2 linked regions of the Homo sapiens genome follow. The protein of the gene in region 2 interacts with the protein of the main gene of each other region in a biochemical or structural test. Each region holds a gene or a part of one and is shown on either strand. Other genes may lie near its edges.

The links.
Region 1: the proteins of CFLAR (region 2) and TRIM31 form a complex in vitro, tested with the Homo sapiens proteins (one study listed by BioGRID).

The regions. Positions count from the first base shown.
Region 1 is NC_000006.12:30,110,085-30,117,956, forward strand, and holds the start of TRIM31 (E3 ubiquitin-protein ligase TRIM31), read right to left. Parts: upstream 3,007-7,872; 5' UTR 2,980-3,006; intron 2,805-2,979; 5' UTR 2,722-2,804; coding exon 2,305-2,721; intron 1,756-2,304; exon of another isoform or gene 1,660-1,755; coding exon 1,564-1,659; intron 595-1,563; coding exon 364-594; intron 1-363.
Region 2 is NC_000002.12:201,168,160-201,175,184, reverse strand, and holds part of CFLAR (CASP8 and FADD-like apoptosis regulator), read right to left. Parts: 3' UTR 1-7,025. UniProt on the Homo sapiens protein: Apoptosis regulator protein which may function as a crucial link between cell survival and cell death pathways in mammalian cells. Acts as an inhibitor of TNFRSF6 mediated apoptosis.

The sequences.
Region 1 (7,872 bases), on a different chromosome or scaffold from region 2:
CTTTTAAAATATTCATTACAGGCTGAAAGGATAATATTTCAGATATATTGAGTTAAAATATTTTATTAAAATTAATTTCACTTTTATCATTTTAATGTGACTAACTAGAAAAATTTGTAATTCCATATGTGGCTGAAACTACATTTCTAAATCACACATGTGGCCAGAATTATATTTATGAATTACATATGTGGCTCACATTTTCATTCTAATACATGCGGCTCACATATTGCTATTGGACAGCACTGGGCTAGAGGTAGGATGGTTGGGGCAATCTCAGGTATTCTGCCAGTGGTCCATGCTCTGACCTGAGACTAGGGATGGGCTGCTACCTCTCTGCAATTCTGCCCCCAAGGGACTCACCTCCAGCAGCTGCCTGGGTGGCATGTTCTGCTTGGTCTTCAGGGAATCAACGAGCTTCTTGAGATCGTTCAACTGTGGCTCAGTGGAGGCAACATAGTGTTTCCCCGCTTCCGTTCCCTCATGACCCAGCCAGTAAATCCGTGATAGCAGGAAATTCTTCTCCTCCTCTAGGACTTGATGCAGGAGTTCAAATTCTGTGAGGATCCTTTGCTTCTCATGTTCTACCTGGTCCTAAGAAACAGGGACAGGCAGAGGGTGAGAGGATGGCCTCGAAGGTCCTTCTAGCCCACTTTATTCAGCCATTAATTTTATTAAGTTTGTGTGGAATTCCCAACCAGAGCAATGTGCCAGGGCAGACCTGGAAGAAAGGAAAGGAGAGGAGAACAAACTTCTAAAAGCACCTACTACGTGCTCAGCTTTAAGCGAAATTATTAATTTATGGTTTACCACTTGCCTTCAAGGAACTGTCTAATACAATTCCAGAAGGCTTTTCAGTTTATAATCTTTCATATAGATTTTATTCCTTTCACGCACACAGGAAAATAGGTAAGTGGGGTCACAATGTCTTCATTTTCCTTCTGTCTTTTTTTTTTTTTTTTTTTGAGACAGTCTCTCACTCTGTCACTCAGGCTGGAGTGCAGTGCACGATCACGGCTCACTGCAGCCTCATCCTCCCAGGCTCAAACAATACTTTCACCTCCCAGCCTCTCTAGTAGCTGGGACTACAGGCGTGTGCTACCACGCCCGGCTAGTTTTCTTTCTTTTTTTTTTTAATTAAGAGGAGAGTCTCGCTATGTTGCCCAGGCTGGTCTCAAACTCCTGGGCTCAAGCGATCCTCAGCCTCCCAGAGTGCTGTGATTACTGGCGTGAGCCACCGCGCCCGGCCAATGTCTTCATTTTCTAATTGGGGAATCCGTTGAGGGCGCAGCTCGGCCTTAAAAACCTGTACTTGCGATTCTAAGACCAGCGCGGGTTTTCCGTGCCCCACCTTGTCTGCCGGTGGAGACTGAGCAGTCAGCCCGCTGTAATAGCGAGGCCGACGCGGGAGGTGATGCCGCCTGGCCGGTCAGGTGCTGAGGCGCCGAGGAGAGGACATGGCTCACTGGATCTTTTTCTGAGGGGTCAGTGTAATAGGGGATTCCAGGAGCTTTGGCAGAGATGTTTCTGCTTCCAGAGATCGTGGGATGGAGTTTTTCTTACCGTGAAGACATCGACCCTGTGTACACCTTGTGCCTTCACTTGTACTGTCTCCTTCTCCTTTTGCTGCAAGACTTGGATCTGCTCTTGAATCTGCCCCTGCGGAAAGAGGGCCGTTTGGACAGGCTGTGCCTGGAGATTTCTGGCCTCATAAAATCCTCCTGGTCTCTTAGGAGAGCTGGTGACACTCTCCAGGTGAGTCCTTGTGTAATTATTAAGGACTCGCCTTTCTCAAGCTGGCGGGGAAAGGGGTTGCTGAGAAGGGAGAAATCTGGAGCCTAAGTGACCTAAATGACCAGAACATAGTTATTTATGACTAACTAGGACTATGGATGGTGCTTTGGAATTATCAAAGAACTACAAACTTCCCTTCATCTGTCCTACCAACAACTTTAAGAGAGTTGTTTTGTTTTTGCCATTTGAAAGGTGAGGTACCTGAGGCTCAGAGAGGTAAAGTGATTCCTTGCAGGTTGTACAGTAAACTCACAAGACTGGGCTTGAGCCCAAACCTTCTGAGTCAAATTTTCACATCCTTTCCATTCTCCATTGCACCTTGATTTAGAGAGTCAGCAGTTCCCCAGACTCAGCTCTTTGAACCCACTGTGCCTGACTGCGAGCTGCCCACTCAAGCCCAAGGGGTGGGGGCAATGGGGTGCAAACCCTCAGTGGGAAGGTAGCAGTTTCCAGGGCCTCACTGAACTCCTGGGCTGATGGGGGAACAGGGAAGAAACCTCAAATGCCTACCTGATAATTCTGGGCAGCTTCTTCGATCAAGCTGACATTATGGGATTTGTGGTCCTTGGATTCACGACACACAAAACAGAGGAACTTCCCATCATCCTCGCAGAAATAGTGGAACATCTCCTGGTGCCTCGGGCATGTAGCCTCTTTCCTTTTGGACTGCACCTCAGAGGCTTGTAGAGCTTGGATTTTCTCCACCAGATTCCGCAACAGCGAGTTGAACCTGATTGCGTTCTTCCTTACGGAAGTTTTGCAGAGGGGACATTTGAAAAATCCACATGATGTTTCCCCAATCTGAGTGATGCATTTGAGGCAGAAATTGTGCCCACAGTCGATGGTGACAGGTTTCTGCAGAATGTCCAGGCAGATGGGGCAGATCACTTCCTCTTGCAGTTTGTTCACAAACTGCCCACTGGCCATGACAGAACAACAGGGCTGTTTCAAGACTGTAGGAAGCTGTGCCAAGTCTGTAGGAGCCCCGGAGTCCACTGTGGATACTGTTTCTAGGAAGGGAGAAGGGAGTCAGAGAAAGTGGAGGTCAGAGATTCTGCCAATTAGTTAGAAGAGCAGAGAGAGAGGAAAAGAAGAGGGAGAAAAAAATAAAGAAATGATAGAAAAGCGTAAAATTTAGGATCTAGAAAATATTATAAAGAGAGGAAAACAGATGGGCAGTCCTACCTTGCTACCTCTTGAGAACAAATGGATACTTTGAATGTGTAATAGGCTGCTTATAAAGTGAAATAAGTTGTCCTGAACTTTGGACTAAAGGTATGTTTGTATGGTGGTTGACTAAGATCAGAATGACCGGGGCACCAAACACCACTTATGGGGGATTTCCCAATCAGCTCTGAGTAGGGAGTGGAGGGGTGGGTGGTGATGCCTACTGAAAGGTCACAGCCAGTTCACTGCAATGCTTTGGGCATCTTGTATGCAAAGTTCAAGCCTTGGTAGAGCATCTGGAAAGTAGGGGAAGGGCAATTCTCTACCTCAGGTGCTTTGGCTCCTCACAGAATTTTGTGAAAATGTGGAGGTTATCATCACCTACCTTGGGGAATTTCCAGTCACAGGGTCAACCAACCACTCCCTAGCTCAGTAGGATAGGCAAGGAACTTCCTTTCTAAAGAGTTGTTCTTTGTTTTTGCACTTTGCTCTTGCCCCTGGTGATCTTCTGTCTCCCCACAACACCTGTAGTAGTCTGTCCTCTGTTGATTTTTTCTCTGTATGTCTCCAGTATGCTGGTGTCTCCGTGCCCATTCTTTGCTTTGCCAATTCTGTCTATATGTTCTTCTTCTTCCTTCTTGGTGCTTCTCTGATCCCTGACTTGCCTTCTATGGCTTTTGTTATGACTAGGAATATATCAACCAGTGTTACATACATTCCCTTCTGTACATTCATGTCCTAACCTTCCCTCCTTGCCTCTTGTCTTAAGGAAAAGGGTGCTTCCTCCCTACCCCTTCTCTTGGTATAGCTTCCACCCTCACCTCCTCACTCTCCATTATCAGCCGTCTGTCCCCAGCAAGAAGTACACCATTAATTTTTGTCTGATCTTAATCTTAGGTCAAACAGGGCTTGTGGATGATTATTATAATAATAGCCAGAGTGATCATACACTCTGCTTTGCCTGGAACCATCCTGGGTTTCACTTTGTCCTGGTGTAATTATTAATAGCACCTCCTTTCACTTTCAGAAATGTCCAGTTTGGACTATAAATTATGTGGCTCCCCTTATAGCAACTGCTGTAAACCAAAGACTTTCAGAAATGTTATACCTCCAGACCTTTCTTTTTGTTTGTTTTAGGGTTAAATTAAAACAGTCTAACATCTGTAAATTGTTTTACTTACACTCCTAAACTGCTGGCCCCTAGAAGCAGAATTTAACTTTTGACAGGTTTTGTTTGACTGGCATGATGATTTAGAAAATAATGATAATGTAGATGCCTTTAGAGAGGGTGGCTATGTTCCCCACCGCTCTGCTACCTCACGTCTCCTTGGCCCTTGAAGGCATTTGACATTATGACTCTGATTTATAGATTTATTTTGCTTATATTACCTCATTTAAGTCTCACCTGTAAGAAATTATCTTTATCCTTTCTCAAAAAAGGAACTCAGTATTCTTCAGAATCACTTGGAAAACTTGTTAAAATTCAGATTTGCTGAACTCCAGTAGAGACTTTCTCTTTCAACAGGTCCTTGGTGGAGCCTGATGATTGACATCTTAAGCAAATTCTCTGGAGAAGTCGATGCTCCTGATGGAGGCTCACACATTGATAACCCCTGGTTTAGAGACACTACTAATTGTTCCAGCTCATCCAGCTAATAAATGACAGATCTCAGACTTAATTCCAGGTTTCCTATTCCACATTAAGTCTTCTTTATTCTTTCTTGTTTCAGCATTAATGAAAACAAATAGTAATCTTTAAAAATGATAAACAAATATTTTAAAAGAACATTGGTATTTCAATGAAGCTGGGCAACCCAGCAGAGAGAATGAAAATACTCATATGAACACCACTGGAGAGTTTCAAAGAACTGTCACCAAACAGGTACTGATGGCTTCATGAGGAAGGAAATTTAGACATAAAAAATGAGAATCTACAGTGTTTCAAAGGTGCTTTACTCTCTCAGAATTATTATTGTTATCCTGGGTCATCCATCCACTGGACTGAATGGAGATATATATATACATATATTTTTTTTCTTTCTTCTTTCTTTTTTTTTTTTTTGAGACAGAGTTTCACTATTATTGCCCAGACTGGAGTGCAATGGCGTGATCTCGGTTCACTACAACCTCTGAATCCCCGGTTCAAGTGATTCTCCTGCCTCAGCCTCCCAAGTAGCTGGGATTACAGGCACCTGCCACCACATCCAGCTAATTTTTTGTATTTTTAATAGAGACGGGGTTTCACCACGTTGGCCAGGCTGGTCTTGAACTCCTGACCTCAGATGACCCACCTGCCTCAGCCTCCCAAAGTGCTGGGATTACAGGCGTGAGCCACTGTGCCCAGCCCTTGAATGGATATCTTAAACTCTTAGTAGGCTCAGTAGTCTGAAACCAAATGCCTCCAATTTGCAAGGGCTAGGGTCTTGAGATAGTTGGTATTGTGTTAGTTCCAAAGGACTTCCAAGCCAATTCTGAGGCATAGAGTTTATAAAAATTAGCCATAGAACAGGAAATGATGCAGAGCCTCATGCACATGAGACAGCTGTCACACACAAGAAAGCAGACACAGAGCCATGCAGCAGCGAGTGCACAGATCTGGAGGGGACCTGCCAAGACTAATGGGATGAGACACCTTATCAGAGGCCAGTGAAGGCTAGAGGCAGCTCAGTTGTCAGACTAGACAGCCCCACAATGTTACATAAGCCTCCCTGCATCACGATTCCAGCTACAGAAGCTTCCCCTGCCTCAGGATTCACATTTCCGGGCCTATGTGAATTGGTAGAATGTCTATGGAGGAAAATAATGTGATATGTTTCAAAACTACAAATGCTCATTCCCTTTATCCCAGAAATTCCACCTCTGGGAATTTAGTCTACAGATATACTCACACATATAAATTTATTTTGGACTTTGTGGTAATGTTTGCATTAGCAAAATATTAGAAAACAATCTAAATGTACATCAGTATGGAAATGTTTAAATAAATTATAGCCCAGCTTTATAACAGAATAGAAATAAAAAAGAATCAGGGAGTTCCTTATTTACATATGGAAAATATGGCCAAGATATGTTGTTATGTGAAGAAAGGAAAAAACAAATAATGCAGAAAAATGCATGTACTATGCTACCATTTGGGTAGAAAAAAAATACTTATTTTCTTGAATATCCAAATAAGTTCTTTCTGGAAGGATAAGAATTTAATAACTAACAATGGTTGTCTCTAAGGAGAGGGACTGACTAGCCAGGGAACAGGGGTGGAAGAGAGGCTTTTCTTTGTATGACATATTACATTTTGTGAATTTTTAATTGTATAAATACATTAAGTTTTTTTCTTTTTTAGTACTTTTTACATTATGTTTTACAACATTAAATAGTAAATCAAAAAATGGACAGAGAATGAAATGGACATTTGCAGAGCAATAAAACCAATTAACCAATAAATACTTGAAAACAGTAATCTTGAAAATGCACGCTCAACTCATTGGCTCATGCCTGTAATTCCAGCACTTTGTGAGGCCAAGGCAGGCAGATTTCTTGAGCATAGGAGTTCAAGAGCAGCCTGGACAACATGGTGAAACCCTGTCTCTACAAAAAATACAAAAGTTAGCTGGGCATGGTGGCACACACCTATAGTCCCAGCTTCTTGGAAGGCTGATGCAGGAGGATTGCATGAACCTGCGAGATCGAGGCTGCAGTGAGCCGTGATCATGCCACTGCACTTTAGCCGCCCTACTGCACTCCAGCTTGGGTAACAGAGCAAGACGTTTCCTTAAAAAAAAAAAAAAAAGAAAGAAAGAAAGAAAAAGAAAAAAGAAAATGCCAATTAAAATAAAAGAAGATATCAGTTTATATCTTAAGTTTAAGTCTGGAATATCAAATATAGCCAAGGACATGGAGAAATAGGTACTCCTATACCCTACTGGTGAGAGTATAAATTACAATAATTTAAAAATATTTAGTAGAATTTAAACGGTGTACTTTCATTTCAAGGTTCTGTAATGATAATGATGATGATGAAAATACTGCTACCAGTAAATAAAAGCTAACATTTCTTGAATGCTTACCATGTGCCAGGCACAGTCCCAAGCATTTTGCGTATTAACTCATTTATATAGAGAAGTATTATTATTCCCATTTTGAGGACAAGTCAACGGAGATCAAGAGAGATTAAGCAATTTGCCCCAAAGGTCATTCAGTAAGTAAATAGTGGAATGGGGACTTGAACCCAGGTAGCCTCTAGAGCCTTCTTACACCCTGTATGATTCTGCCTCTCTAGAGAAAACCTTGCACATGTGCACTCAGAGATGCATGTAACAGTATTAATATTGGCTGGGTGCGGTGGCTCCCGCCTGTAATCCCAGCACTTTGGGAGGCTGAGGCGGGCGGATCACGAGGTCAGGAGATCAAGACCATCCTGGCTAACCCGGTGAAACCCTGTCTCCACTAAAAATACAAAAAATTAGCCAGGCATGGTGGCCGGCGCCTGTAGTCCCAGCTACTCGGGAGGCTGAGGCAGGAGAATGGCGGGAACCTGGGAGGCGGAGCTTCCAGTGAGCCGAGATCGCGCCACTGCCCTCCAGCCTGGGCGACAGGGTGAGGCTCCGTCTCAAAAAAATAAATAAATAAATAAATAAATCCTATGTCAGGGTTTTTCAATGATAGCACTGTTGACATTTTAGGCTGGATAATTCTTTGGTGTGTGGTGGCCCTGTGCACTGTAGGATGTTTACCAGCATCCCTGGCCTCTACCACTAGATTCCAGTAGCACTCCTATCCCCCAGTTGTGACAAACAAAAATGTCTCCAAGCATGACCAAATGTCCCTGGGGGACAAAACCTCTGATGGAAAACCAGTGATCTGTATGTAGTCATATGGCTAGGTCTCAAAACAGTAATGAGTATGTGGTGATTT
Region 2 (7,025 bases):
CCCATAGGAAGAGTAGCCCTGATGGGCTGCTGACTGGCTATATTTATGGTTGCTTCTTGACTATACGCTAAACAAGAGGTGGCTTATTCATGAGTTTTCCAGGAAAGAAGTGGGGAGGTCTGGACCTTTTAGACCATACAGGGTAACTTCTGAAAGTTGCTATGGCAGTTGTAAACTATCATGGTGCTGTAGAAGTTTCTTTTAGCGTGCTAATGTATTATAATTACCATAGAATGGGCAGCAAAGGTAACCAGAGGTCTCTTCTGTCACCATCATGGTTTTGGCTGGTTTGGGTTGGCCTTTCTACCACATCCTGTCTTATCAGCAGGGTCTTACAGGGTCTTGTGGTCTTGGGAAACCAGTCCTGCCAAACTCCTCTCATTCAGTGTAATCACTATCAAAATTCCAGAGGCCCTTTTTACATAAATTTGCAAGTGAATCCTAACAGTTATATGAAAATTTAGGGAAAGGTAAACCCAATACAGCCCTAACAATTTTGAAAAAGAACAGGCCAGTTGCAGTGGCTCACCCCTCAGCACTTTGGGAGGTGGAGGTGGGAGGATTGTTTGAGGCCAGGAGTTTGAGACCAGCCTGGGCAACATAGCAAGGCCTCATCTCTACAAAAGAAAAAAGAAGAACAACAACAACAACAAAGTTAGAGGACTACATTTCTGGATTCCAAAACTTACTACGAAGTTACAATAATCAAGACAGTGTGGTACTACCATAAGATAGAGCAACAGAATTGAGTCCAGAAATAAACCCTTATAGTTAGTTGATTTGTGATAAGTATAAAATAATTCTATAGGGAAAAAATAGTATTTTCAATAAGTAATGCTAAGACAAGTGAACATTTATGTGCAAAAGAATGAGGCTGGATGCTTATCTCGCACTGCATACACAAAAATAACTCAAAATGGGTCAAAGAGCTAAAATCATAAAACTTTAGAAGAAAACATAGGGGTAACACCTCATAGGCAATTGATTTAGACAATGGTTTTTTAGGTATGACACCAAAAGCATAAGCAATAACATAAAAAACAGAAATCAAGTGAACTTCATCAAAATTTAAAACTTGTACTGTATAGTATCCAGAAAGTGAGAAGACAATCCATGGAATGGGAGAATATATTCACAAAGATTGTACCTGATAAGAAACTAGTATCCAGAATATTAAAAAGAATGCTTACAACTCAACAATAAAAAGACAACCCACCGGGTGTGGTGGCTCACGCCTGTAATCCTAGCATTTTGGGAGGCCGAGGCAGGCAGATCACCTGAGTTCAGGAGTTCAAGACCAGCCTGGCCAACATGGCGAAACCCTGTCTCTACTAAAAATACAAAAATTAGCCAGGCGTGATGGTGGGTGCCTGTAATCCCAGTTACTAGGGAGGCCGAGGCAGGAGAGTCGCTTGAACTCAGGAGGTGGAGGTTGCAGTGAGCCGAGATTGCACCACTGCACTCCAACCTGGGCGACAGAGTGAGATTCCATCTCAGAAAAATAAAATAAAATAACGCAGTTTTAAAATGAGAAAGGACTTGAGGCCAGGCACAGTAGCTAATGTCTGTAATGCCAGCACTTTGGGAAGCCAAGGCAGTCAGATCACCTGAGGCCAGGAGTTCGAGACCAGCCTGGCCAACATGGTGAAACCCTGTCTTTACTAAAAATACAAAAATTGGCTGGGCGCGGTGGCTCACGCCTGTAATCCCAGCACTTTGGGAGGCCAAGGCAGGCGGATCACGAGGTCAGGAGATAGAGACCATCCTGGCTAACACGGTGAAACCCTGTCTCTACTAAAAATACAAAAAATTAGCCGGGCGTGGTGGAGGGCGGCTGTAGTCCCAGATACTTGGGAGGCTGAGGCAGGAGAATGGCATGAACCCAGGAGGCGGAGCTTGCAGTGAGCTGAGATTGCACCACTGCACTCCAGCCTGGGCCACAGAGCGAGACTCCGTCTCAAAAAACAATACAAAAATTAGTTGGGCATGGTGGCGAGCTCCTGTAAACCCAGCTACTCCCAACTACTAGGGAGGCTGAGGCAGGAGAATGGCTTGAACCCAGAAGGCAGAGGTTACAGTGAATCAAGATAACGCCACTGCACTCCACCCTGGGCGACAGAGTGAGACTCCGTCTCAAAAACAAAAAAATAAAAAAAACCTCATACACTGCTGGTGGGAATATAAAATGATGCTACTACTTTGAAAAGCAGTTTGGCAGTTCCTCAAAAGGCTAAACATAGAGTTACTATATGATGAGCACTCTCACTTCTAAGGTATATGCCCAGAAGAACTGAAAACATATATCCATATAAAAATTCATATACGAATATTCATAGCAGCATCATCCATAATAGCAAAAAAGTGGAAACAGTCTAAATTTCGATCAACTGATGAATAAACTAAATGCGGTATATCCACACAATAGGGTATTATTCAGCCATAAAATGTAATGAAGCACTGGTACACTCTATAGCATAGATGAACCTTGAAACATGCTAAGTGAAGGAAGTCAGACACGAAAGGCCACATGTTTATTTTTATAAAATATCTAGAACAGGCAAATCATAGAGACAGAAAATGGATTATTGTTTCTAGAGGCTGGGGGAAGAGGAGGATTAGAGTGGCAGCTCACTGGTATGGAGTTTCTAGGTAGATGGAAATGTTCTGGAATTAGATAGTGGTGATGATTGCACAACTCTGTAAATATACTAAAATCCACTGCATCATTTACTTTAAAGGGGCAAATTTTATGGCTTGTGAATTACATTTCAATAAAAAGAAGATGAGGAAACCTAGGATATGTCACAATCCCATGCCACAAACTACTTACACTTCCAATATAAAAACTATATCAACAATAGTTTACATCACGTTCATTGCTTGCTAAAGTAAGGTCATGAATGTATCAAAATATTTTATAAAAGTTAAAATTTAGGAGATCCATCATTTCTCTTTTCAATCCATCACTGATTCATTCAATATATATTTATGTGTATGCCAGGCTCTTCATCAGGTAAAGTGTTTAGGAGAGATATAAAGATAAAACTGATGAGAATTCTGCACTTGAGCTACAGCATACTTTCCAAGAATTACAGCATGAGATATAAAATGAAAAGAAGGCTTGGAGGAGATTCACACGAAATAGTACTGTTCAGGAGAGGGGGCGATAATTCCAATGGAAGAGATAACTGACTTCATGGAGGATAGAAGGAGATGGTATTTGAACTGCCCTTGAAGTATGGTTATATTTTGGGGATGTGGAGATGTGGGGTAGGGTGATATGCTGGGGTTCCAGATGGTCCAGAAATATACAATCACCAGAACCAAAGATCCAGAGGTAGGAGATATGAGCTGTTCAATTTGGCTGAGCTAACAGTGTTTGGAGTGGGATCTTGAAGAAGCTGAAAATGAAGATACCAACTAGACAGTCAGAGAAAGACTTCCAATGTTTGACTGAACTGCAATTTTATTGTGTATGCATTGAAGAATCTTTTTTTTTTTTTTTGTATTCTCTAAAGATTTTTAAAATATTTTAAGTTCTGGATACAAGTGCAGGATGTGCGGGTTTGTTACATAGGTAAACGTGTCCCATGGTGGTTTGCTGCACCTATCAACCTATCACCTAGGTATTAAGCCCCACATGCATTAGCTAGTTATCCTGATGCTCTCCCCGCTACGGCCCCTGCATCAGGCCCCAGTGTGTGTTGATCTCATCCCTGTGTCCGTGTGTTCTCATTGTTCAGCTTCCGCTTACAAGTGAGAACATGTGGTGTTTGGTTTCCTGCTCCTCTGTTAGTTTGCTGAGGATAATGGCTTCCAGCTTCATCCATGTCCCTGCAAAGGACATGATCTCATTCCTTTTTTAAAAAAAAAAACAAAATTATTTCCATAGGTGTTTGGGGAACAGGTGGTATCTGGTTACATGCGTAAGTAATTAAGTGGTTACTTGTGAGATTCTGGTGCACCCATCACCTGAGCAGTATACACTGAACCCAATTTGTATTCTTTTATCCTTCACCCCCCTCCCACCCTTTCCCCTAAGTCCCCAAAGTCCATTGTATCCTTCTTATGCCTTTGCATCCTCATAGCTTATCTCCCACTTATGAGTGAGAACATACAATGTTTGGTTTTCCATTCCTCAGTTACTTCCTTTAGAGTAATAGTCTCCAGGTTGCTGTGAATGTCATTAATTCATTCCTTTTTATGGCTGAGTAGTGTTTAGGTGAGGTTATTTGTAAGTAATTAATATTGAGTAAATAAGATTCATCCATAGTGGCAAAGCCACATAACTTCTAAGTATCTTAAACTATATCTAAATGGTACCAAAACATGCAGTCAATTCTAAAAGCTCAGCTAATGATATTTCATAATATAGGAAAATATTCACAACATATTTTTGTGTAAAAAAAAGCAGACTTCAAAATGGAATATGCATTATGATTCCAATCATGTAAAAGCTATACATGAACACATACAAAGATTAACAGATATAAACAAATGGAAGAATGAATGGAGAGATAGATGATAGACAGATTGAGTGGTGGTGGAGAATAACAGATTTAAAAAGAAATTGTGCCTTTCTATATTTTCAAAACCATTTAAATAAGTATTACCTTTGGAGTTAGAAAATGATATGTATTTTAAATCCATAATTCAACTACTTATCTATATGATGTCAAACTGGATTAGGCTGAATTATCAGCAAGTGAATAAAACAGTTCCTTCATCCATGGAGAAACATCCATTTATGACATTCTTGGAATTCCTCTTGTTAGAATTCTTTATGAATTTAAAATAGAAACATGGCCAGACTCAAGATTTCAATACAAACATTACTTTTTCACGTTCAGTAATAACCAATTAAAAGAATTAATGAAAAATCTGATTCACTGTATCACCAAAAGCTGTAATGGCTGCACTGCACAGTATTCCATGGTGTATATGTACCACATTTTCTTTATCCAGTCTATCTTTGATGGGCATTTGCTATTGTGTCTTTGCTATTGTGAAGAGTGCTGCAATGAACAAAAATGTGCATGTATCTTTATAATAAAATGGTTTATATTCCTTTGGGTATATACCCAGTAATGGGATTGCTGGGACAAATAGTATTTCTAGTTCTAGATCTTTGAGGAATAGCCACACACACTTCCACAACGGTTGAACTAATTTACATTCCCACCAACAATGTAAAAGTGTTCCTACTTCTCCACAGCCTCGCCAGCATCTGTTGTTTTTTGACTTTTTAATAATCACCATTCTGACCGGCATGAGATGGTATCTCATTGTGGTTCTCCTTTGCATTTCTCTAATGATCAGTAAGGTTGAGCTTTTTTTTATATGTTTGTTGGCCACATAAATGTCTTCTTTTGAGAAGTGTCTGTTCATGTCCTTTGTCCACTTTTTGATGGGGTTGTTTTTTTCCTTGTAAATTTGTTTTAAGTTCCTTGTAGGTTCTGGATATTAGACCTTTGTCAGATGGATAGATTGCAAAAATGTTCTCCCATTCTGTAGGTTGCCTGTTCACTCTAATGATAGTTTCTTTTGCTGTGCAGGAGCTCTTTAGTTTAATTAGATCCCATTTGTAATTTTTGCTTTTGTTGCAATTGCTTTTGATGTTTTTGTCATGAAACCTTTGCTTGTGCCTATGTCTTGAATGGTATTAAATAGATTTTCTTCTAGGGTTTTTATAGTTTTAGGTTTTACATTAAGTCTTTAATCTTGAGTTAATTTTTGTATAAGGTGTAAGGAAGGGGTCAGTTTCAATTTTCTGCATATGGCTAGCCAGTTTTCCCAGCACCATTTATTAAATAGGGAATCTTTTCCCCATTGCTTGTTTTTGTCAGGTTTGTCGATGATCAGATGGCTGTAGATGTGTGGTCTTCTTTCTCTGGTCTCTATTCTGTTCCATTGGTCTATGTGTCTGTTTTTGTACCAGTACCATGCCATTTTGGCTACTGTAGCCTTGCAGTATACTTTGAAGTTGGGTAGTGTGATGCTTCCAGCTTTGTTCTTTTTGCTTATTGTTGTCTTGGTTATACGGGCTCTTTTTTGGTTCCATTTGAATTTTAAAGTAGTTTTTTTCTAATTCTGTGAAGAATGTCAATAGTAGTTTAATGGGAATAGCAATGAACCTATAAATTACTTTGGGTAGTATGGCCATTTTCATGATATTGATTCTTCCTATCCACGAGAATGGAATGTTTTTTCATTTGTGTCCTCTCTTATTTCCTTGAGCAGTGGTTTGTAGTTCTCCTTGAAGAGATCCTTCACATCTTATTAGCTGTATTCCTAGGTATTTTATTCTCTTTCTAGCAACTGTGAATGGGAGTTCATTCATGATTTGGCTCTCTGCTTGTGTATTGTTGGTGTATAGAATGCTTGTGATTTCTGCACATTGATTTTGTATCCTGAGACTTTGCTGAAGTTGCTTATCAGCTTAAGGAACTTTTGGGTGGAGATAATGGGGTTTTCTAGATATAGTATCATGTCATCTGCAAACACAGTTTTACTTCCTCTTTTCCTATTTGAATACCCCTTATTTGTTTCTCTTGCCTGATTTTCTTGGCCAGAACTTCCAATACTATGTTAAATAGGAGTGGTGAGACGGCATCCCTGTCTTGTGCCAGTTTTCAAGGGGAATGCTTCCAGCTTTTGCCCATTCAGTATGATAATGGCTGTGGGTTTGTCATAAATGGTTATTATTTTGAGATATTTTCCATCAATACCTAGTTTATTGAGAGTTTTTAACATGAAGCAACGTTGAATTTTATTGAAGGCCTTTTCTGTATCTATTGAGATAATCATGTGGTTTTTGTCTTTAGTTCTGTTTATGTGATGAATTATGTTTCTTGATTTGCGTATGTTGAACCAGCCTTGCATCCCAGGGATGAAGCCAACATTCCAAACATTTTATTTATTATTTATTTATTTATTTATTTTTGAGACAGAGTCTCGCACTGTCGCCCAGGCTGGAGTGCAGTGGCAAGATCTCAGCTCGCTGCAAGCTCCACCTCCCAGGTTCA